Regions from separate parts of the Homo sapiens genome. Here region 2 is linked to region 1. The links come from fine-mapping of genetic effects on gene expression. Tissue or cell type: whole blood. Region 1 holds a variant in brackets; the other region holds the start of a gene. All regions are shown on one strand. Distances are from middle to middle.

The links. PIP is the estimated chance that this variant, and not a neighbour inherited with it, causes the effect.
Region 2: CEP57 starts here. The variant in region 1 is fine-mapped to the expression of CEP57 in whole blood (TOPMed, PIP above 0.99).

The regions. Positions count from the first base shown.
Region 1 is chr11:95,961,988-95,966,251 of GRCh38, reverse strand. It overlaps the pseudogene RPL32P25. Among named protein-coding and RNA genes, the nearest start is that of MTMR2, 40 kb to the right of the region's middle. The variant G/A (reference allele first, on the strand shown) is at 2,081.
Region 2 is chr11:95,788,491-95,792,490 of GRCh38, reverse strand. It overlaps CEP57 (centrosomal protein 57), which reads right to left and starts at 1,993. Exons shown (of 11, transcript NM_014679.5): 1 at 1,748-1,993. The coding sequence starts at 1,792. FAM76B (family with sequence similarity 76 member B) reads left to right here and starts at 2,709. Exons shown (of 10, transcript NM_144664.5): 1 at 2,709-3,099; 2 at 3,928-3,992. The coding sequence starts at 3,013. RefSeq lists enhancers at 1,085-1,748, 1,712-2,181 and a silencer at 2,682-3,101.

The sequences.
Region 1 (4,264 bases):
GAACAAGAAGAGGATGCCCACTATCATCCATTCCTACCTGATCTTCTGGTGGAAGTCCTACTCAGTACAAGAAAACAAAAAAAGAAAAAAAATACATTAAAATTGTACAGAAACAAAACAATCATAATTGGATAATCATAAATATATGTGGTTATTCATTTAGAAAACCCCAGAGAATCTAGCCAATTTTCTGGAAACTAAATCAACACACAAAAGCAGTTTTTATATGCCACCAACTATTAAAAAGCATAACTTGAAAATCATATTCACAGTAACATCAAAATCTAGGATATGTGTGGATATACATGTATATGTGTGTGTATTGAGCCTTACATGCATAAAATTATCAAATTCTAATAAAGAACATTTTTAAAGACCAAATAGATAATTACCATGCTCTTTGACAGGAAGCATCTATAGTATAAAGTCAGCAACTTTTTCTAACTCAGAATTCCCCAGGGTACCTCTTGGTGATTCCATGCCCAGTGATAATAGCACATGGGCAATTGCAACTACCTAGTCTTGAAAAGGGCAAGGTAACCAGAAACTCAATTCCCTCAAAGATAAAGGACTGGGTCACCTACCAAGAGAAGCATCCAAGAGATATTCTGACCAAGGGAAGTCTACCATGGGTGGTAAAGGTGGGAGATGATGAATATCAACTGATGGCCTCAGGACCAACTACAGCAGTAGGGAGTGTACTTACTCCATCTACATTTAAGCCTTTTATTCTTCTCTTTTTCAGGTACCTGTACCTTAAAAATTTGAAGAATCAGTGACAACATAGAGTGAACATAGTGTGAGGGTTGAGTGGATCTGAAGGGTGCAACGGGTTGCAGTAGCAGATCTCAAAAGGGCTCCATCCATATCGCTTTAATCTATCCTAGACAGCTGCTGTCAAGATGATTGCCTCCTACATATTTCTTGACGATTGCCTGAGGGCATCGTCTTTAGCAGAATACTTGGGACAAGCCTTAAGTAGAAGAGAATTTCTGTCCCAAAGGGGGCTTTCAACCAATTTAGGATGGTGGATAAATAGCCCAGATCCCTTCTCCTTTAGTGGATAAGTCTCATGTGTGTTTCACACTATCTTTCAGAGTTCCCAGTGGGAATAAGCCTGGTTGCTCATTGTGGTAATCTGCTTATAAATAAATGCTTTATTGGTTCTTATTCTTTCCAGGTCTCACTTCCTTACGCCTTCACAGTGCTTCCAGGTATCACCTTCCAGATAAACTCCCTGCATGCAGATCTTTGTCTTAGTATCTACTGTGGGGGGAATTAAACTAAAACAAAATCTAAATGTCCATCAATGTTAGAAGAGGTAAATTGAGGTATTGTCATAAAATGGAATGTAATGCTACAAGAAAAGGGAATGAGCTAAATACATCAACATAATGTTGAATGAAAGAAGCAAGTCACACACAAAAAACCCTACACCTTGATTCTATTTTTAAAAAATATTTTAAAAGGCCAAACTAAACAAGATGTTATTTAAGAATACATACTGCAAACCAAAAATAAAATTCGAAGCTCCCCAATCGACTGAATGGACCCCTTTTTGGCCAACGGGATCCCAAAGAAACCTGACAAACAAGTTCAGGCCATAATGGGAAGGAGTCAGACATGTCTCACTGTATACTCCTCCCTTTGGAGTTTAGAAACATCTAACCAGCATTAACATTAAAACAGAGATCTTGAGACTGACGAAGCAGGCTCTTGATAGCAATAAGATACCAGATTCCAACCTGACTCTGGTATAGCATCACATGACAAATAGCAGGCCTTGAGGGAAGTCACTTTACTGCCAAATATACTTCTTTGACATATATTGAAATAGCCCTGCAAAGCTGTCTCTTGTGGGGGAAATGTGCATTCTATAGAGAATCTCCTTCCCTTACTATGTCTTTTATGCAGAGTCTGACACCATTTAAGGCCTGATAAGAGACATTTTCTCTGAAGCCTGCTACCTCAAGGCTCTATCTACATGATAAGAACCTTGGCTTCCACAACCTCTCCTTTTATCTTAACTCAATATTTCTTTATGCTGACTTCAACTCTTTAGGCAGAGCTAAACTCTTTC[G/A]ACCAATTGCTAATTAGGAAATCTTTGAATGCACCAATGACTTGGAAATCCCCCCGCCACCCAACTCCCCCACTGCTTCAAGATATCCCACTTTTCCAGGCTGAGCCAAGTATACTTTCCATGCATTGATTTATGTCTTTGCCTGTAACTTCTGTATCCCTAAAATGTATAAAACCAAGCTGCAACCCAGCCACCTTTGGCACATATTGTCAGGAAGGACCTCTTGAGGTTGTGTCACAGGTCATAGTCCTTAACCTTGGCAAAATAAAACTCTAAATTGATTGAGACCTGTCTCAGATACTTCTTGGTTTATAATACAGATTGGCAAAACCGCAAAGAAAAGCAAGAGACTAATTCTCATAAAAGCCAGCCTAATGGTTGCGTCTAGGGAACAAAGAGAGCTTTTAAGGTACTGGTAGTGTTCTGTTTCTTAACCTGGTTGTTGTGTATGCCATTATTTGTTATCTTATTCCTTAATTTATTCATACCTTTCTTGGCAGTTTTTATGGTTTTCTTTAAACACAAGTAAAACGTGCACACAACCTGTCTATTCATTTTCTTTGCTGTGCAGCCTGGCATTAGGATTGGTGACTCTGATGATGAGCTAGGCTGCTCTTTCCATGATGGCTGTGTGGTTCTTCTTTGAGAAAACATTGTGAGCATTCTCAGCCCAGTAAGATTTGTTGCACATCAGCAGCACATCCAGCTCCTTGACACTGGATACTAGGAACTTCCAGAAGCCATGGGCAGCATGTGCTTTGTCTTCTTGTTGCTCCTATAACCAGTGTTGGACATCAAGTCTGGCCCTTGAATCCTCTGCATACCCTGTTGTTAATACCTCTGGGTTTCCACCAGTTACACTTAATTTTGACATATCGATCTGTCCCGATGATGAACTTCTTGATCCTCTTTATGACAATCTTGGGCTCCACAAGGGGTCTGAGTGTGGCTATGATGGTGAATAGGAGATGGCTGCCACCTTCATAGGCAGCATCACAGAAGAGACTTTATTTATATGTTGTGTATTTAATATCTTTTACAATAAAAAATTTTTAAATGCTGTCAAATTAAGAATGTGAAAAACGGAAGGAGCATTGCAGTTGATCAACTAATTGATCGTTAAGTATGAGGATTTTGCACTCAAATTGCCTTGTGTCTTTAAGTTTCCATTCCATTTTAATGAAACCAGAAATTGAAATCAGAAAATGCATTATGTATGTGATTCATGCAAGAAAGACTTCAGAGAATAAAACCATATCAAAAAGAAAGGCCTTGGCCCTAACATCAAAAAGATTTGTGAATGCTGGCACATTATAAACTTTACATTAAAAATAAATTTTAAAATTATGTTTTAAGTTTAAAAATATAATTTATATATGTATGTATATAATGTATACATAGATAATTCTGTTTAACATACATACATAATTCTGTTTAACCCAATTTTATTTTTCTTTTTTAAGTTAACTAACCAACTACCACTTCTATTCACATCACATAAGAGGACATCTACTCTACTAAACAGTAAGGAAATCAACTAAAGATTGTGTAGGGCTTTGTTTGGAAACTAATGGGAAGTGAAGACAGAATGGCACAGAGGTTATGTATGTTTAAAAATTAAAACTGATTTTTAACACTTATTCTTGAAAAACATGCAACAAATATTAAGGAAAATTATCTCCAATATGAATGAGTATAACATTAAGTAATCTTCAAAGTAGTTTTTACTCATTACTGATTCATATACTAACCTAAAAGCAACATGTCAGTTTTCAAAGCACTAAAGAAAAAGTATATATGAATAGTGAGAGAGATACAGAGAGAGAGCACCCCCATTTATATTTGTGTGTCTCCATTTGTATAATCCTGCCTTTCAATACTTGCTGGAAAAATAGAAGATTATTCTACATCTGGTCTTTTGGTTAAAGTTAGCAAGGCATTTTTGTTAATCTTTGGAGTGATCAGAAGGTTTGAAAGATGTCTTAATCCTGCTCTGAGTGTGTTAAAGTAGATGTCTTTTTTCACTTTACAAAATCAAAAGAGAGTGGTGTTATGAGGATTAGATTTTGACAATTCAACCCAAATGACTTTGTTATGGAAAAATATTCTGCGTCCTTTCTCTAATCCAGAAAGTATATTCATAGAGAGGGCACTATAACTACACTAAAGTATAGTTGCAAATAT
Region 2 (4,000 bases), 170 kb after region 1:
ATTTTATTTTATGGAGACAGGGTCGCTCTGTCGCCCAGGCTGGAGAGCAGTGGCACTATCATACCTCACTTCAGCCTCAGTGATCCTCCCGCCTCAGCCTCACTAGTAGCTGGTATTACAGGCATGAGCCACGCACCCAGACTCAATTCAACATTTGTAAGAGTATTCCTTGTTCGGTCTCCAAGTGCTTAACTTTTGAGAGCCGTGAAAAGCCCTCTTCTCCCAAGTTTAATCACATCTCCTATAAAATCTCATCCATCTGCTGACACTTCCAATAGTTTTTTACTTTTTTCTTTTACTGACCTAATCCTGAATAACCTTAAATTGCTGCTTTCCTTACTTCTCCTTAACTTCCCCAGACCTCTCTGCAAACTTCTAATTCCCATTCGGCTGAAACACTGTAATACTTCTAGTCCCATTATTACAAATTCTAACAAGTCTCCAAAAGCTGAAACTGACTTCTCCAAGGTGACCAGGCTTTCTTAGCGTTTCCAACTCTTTCCCCCTAGATCCTAGAAAATAACTTTACCCTGATACTCTTCTAGTTCCTTCCCTCACCATCCTTCTTTTTTCACGTTTTTACCTACGTTTCCAATTCACCTCATCCAGCTCTACCTCCGTATTACTTCTTCTCATTCCGAACTATCTCAAGTTTCCTAAAAGCACCTACTGTTCTAGCACATACTCCAAAATTCCCGCACTGCCTTTTTCTCCTTTCTCTACTCTTGGGACAAGCAATCACAATTCCTTCGACACGCAACTAGCTCCATCTTCCCTTCTAGGAAACCTTCTCTAGCCTACCCAAGCACTGTTAATCACTCCCCTCTAGATTATTCTACTACGGTAGCACTTCCTAAACTATACTGCGCAGTAATCACTAATTACGTGTAGTTTCTCTTCAGTGTTTTTCTCCTTCAAAGCAGGGTTTCTATTCTGTTCATTTGGACCCTAACAGTATACCAGGCATCGAACATTTGCTAACTGGAGAAATAAGAGCTCCAACATTTACTTCCTATCAAAGCTTTCCAATGCCGCGGTTTTCAAAAACCTAAGCATTCGACACTCCAATTTGAGAAATACCAGTGAATACCAGTAACTAAACTGGATGGTGACATTTGATGAGGCGAAAACAATATTTAAAATCAATTCCCCCTGTCGCCTCTCCAAAAGGGCATTTCCACATTGAAGTTCCAGTAATTCTAGGTGACAGGAAGCGCGCGTTCTGGCTACGAGCATCACACAACGAAGTTAATGTGGATGGGAGTGGGAGGCACTGCAGGGATAGGAAACAGCATAAGCAACGACTAGTAAGCGCTCGAGAGACGGCGGACTACTATTCTGCAACGTCTCTTAAACACACTGGCGCGCCTCACCTGATCTGGCGAGTTTCCTAGAGGGGCCGCTGAACCCACGTGACCAAAAGAGCTACATTTTTGCAGGCCAGGGAGTGGGCAGTTATCCCAGCCGGCCCTTGGGAATGTTAGGCAACCGGGGTTGGTTGCTACGCCAAAAGGTGAATAAGGGCTGGGGAACAGGGGCGGCCAGCCCAGTTTCACTGGGAGCCAGAGGGTGCAGCTTCGACACAGCCACAGTGAATGGAAGCTTGGGGAGCGCGGGGCAATCTAGGCATTCCCGCCGACCTCCAGAATTGCGTCAGAAGCTGGACTGACAGCGCCCTGAAACGTGAGGAAACTCAAAGAGGCGCTTAGGGCCGACGTGGGGCCCACTCGCGCCAACTGCTTCTTACCGACAAGTGAGAACCAGAAGCCGCAGAGACAGACGCCGCCGCCATCTTTCAGCCTGCCCAGGGGGTCTCCGCACTTCGGGGGCGGTCTAGGTTCTCGTGCTCTTCTCCAAGACTCGGGAGCCGCCCACCAGCGGGGACCCTAGGCTGAACCCCTGATGGAAAAGGGCAAGGGTGCTGGTGCTGGGCTTGGAAACCCCTGCAACACACCCCCTCAGGGCCGCCTACGCTCACAGCTTACACAGAAAGGGCAACACGTCCTAACGGACGTCTTTCCTAGCCAATCAAAACAGCAGACGTCTTTCTGTAGTAGGAGAGAATCCGCCTCTTCCCTGGTGACGTCACAAGGTAGCGCGTAACGGGGCCCGCTGGGGCAGACAACGCCGGGGTTACAGGCCGGCTCTGCGGGGATTCTACGGAGGGTCGGGCCTCCTCCAGTAAGAAGCGTGGGCGAGTAGTGGTGTCGCCAGTGGCAACTGAAGGGAGTAATGGAGATAAAACAAAAGCGAAGGCGAAGTTAAAGCACTCCACGAGTTCCCTCGGATTAAACGCCGGAGAGAGCGTGAATTTGCCTCGGGGACGCCTCTCCAGGTGAAGTATTTACCTTTTGGCCAATAACAAATAGGATTAGGAGGGACTTAACGATTTAGTCCAATAGAAAGCAAGGGAAAAAAAGTTGCGGCAGAGAACGAGCCTTTCGCGAACATTTGCTCAATTGGATTGGGGCGCTCTCAGCCAAACCTGGGACTGGCTGTTAGAAATAGCCGCGACCGCAGACCTTTGGGCGGGGCAGGTTCAAAGCGGATTTCGCGCGCTGAGAGCTCCGGGATGTCATTGGCCGGCGACATCCTCCCTTTGTGGGCGCTTCCTGCGTCGCGGAAGTTGGGAGTTGGGAGGAGCCATCGAATGACGCGATAGCCTTCGCAGCCAATCAGGGATGGGAAAGGGAGGCCGAGAAGGAAGCGGATCCACGGCCGCACAGCTAAACAGCAACCCCCTACCCGCTTCGTCTCCCTCCGCCGCTATCGGGGCCTAAGCGGGAGCGGCTGGCACGGCGTCACTGGGTGGGCTGGGGCGGAAGTGGAGGCGGAGGGAGACGGTGGCGTCGTCCGCGGGGCCCTGGGCTCTCGCGGCGAGGCCCTGGTGGGCGCGAGGCAGGGGGAGGGGGAGGAGGAGGAGCCCGCGGCCCGGGCGGCGGCGGCTCTCGGGTTCTCCGTAGGGCCCCGCCTCGGAGCGGGCGGCGGCGGAGGAGGAGACTGAGGAGCAGGATGGCGGCCTCGGCCCTGTACGCCTGCACCAAGTGTACCCAGCGTTATCCTTTCGAGGAGCTCTCCCAGGGCCAGCAGCTCTGCAAGGTCCGTGGGCTCCGGGAGGCGGGCGGGATGGGTGTCCTCGGCCGTAGCCGGAGGGGGCCGGGTAGCCGCTGCACTGCAGCCCCTCTTCGCCGGCGCCTCAGGGGTTTGGGAGTCTGGAGCCCTCGCCTCCCCACTCGGGGACCCCTTTTTCTGGGGGCTTGAACATTAGCTGGGAACGGACCCTGAAAGGGAGGCAGAATCGTGCCCTTTTCCAGGCGGCCCAGGAGGGTGCCGGGCCCCGTCAGCGTCTGGGGGTCTCAGGAGTGGGGTTGAGTGAGGCAGCCACCTGTCTATGCCGCAGAGACCCAGGGGTGGAGATGTTTTCATCTCGGTTTTCTGCCTGGTCTGTCCTCTTCTTCCACCAGGAGGCAGGGGACGGTTTTTGCACTTTCTTGCTAGGAACCCGAAGCCGCAAAGCTGATGGCATCCTTCTTCCCTGTCCAGGAAAGCGAAGCGACTGGTTTGGGAACAGAATGCTCTGATTTGGAGCTCCTCCCATCCCATTAAAGCCTGGATGCTGTCTGTGAGCAACGGTGCAAAATAATAAGTAGTTTCACATTTAACCAATCCTTGAAATAGGCCCTGACAGCTTTCTTAATTTGTCTGTAATATACCCCCACGTCTACTAAAGACAAAGACACCTGTGCCTTCCCTAAGGAATTATATTGTGATTGGCCACTTATATGATAAAGCATCCAGTTCTTTACGTTGGGGCCAGGTTTTATAAATGTTTTAGACTTTCACTAGGTTGGGTAAACAGTTTTCTACCAGAAAAGTGAGATTTGGGACTTTCAGAAAGATACTGACTAATGTATTGTCTTATTACAGGAATGTCGGATTGCACATCCTATTGTAAAATGTACTTACTGCAGATCAGAATTTCAACAAGAGAGGTTTGTAT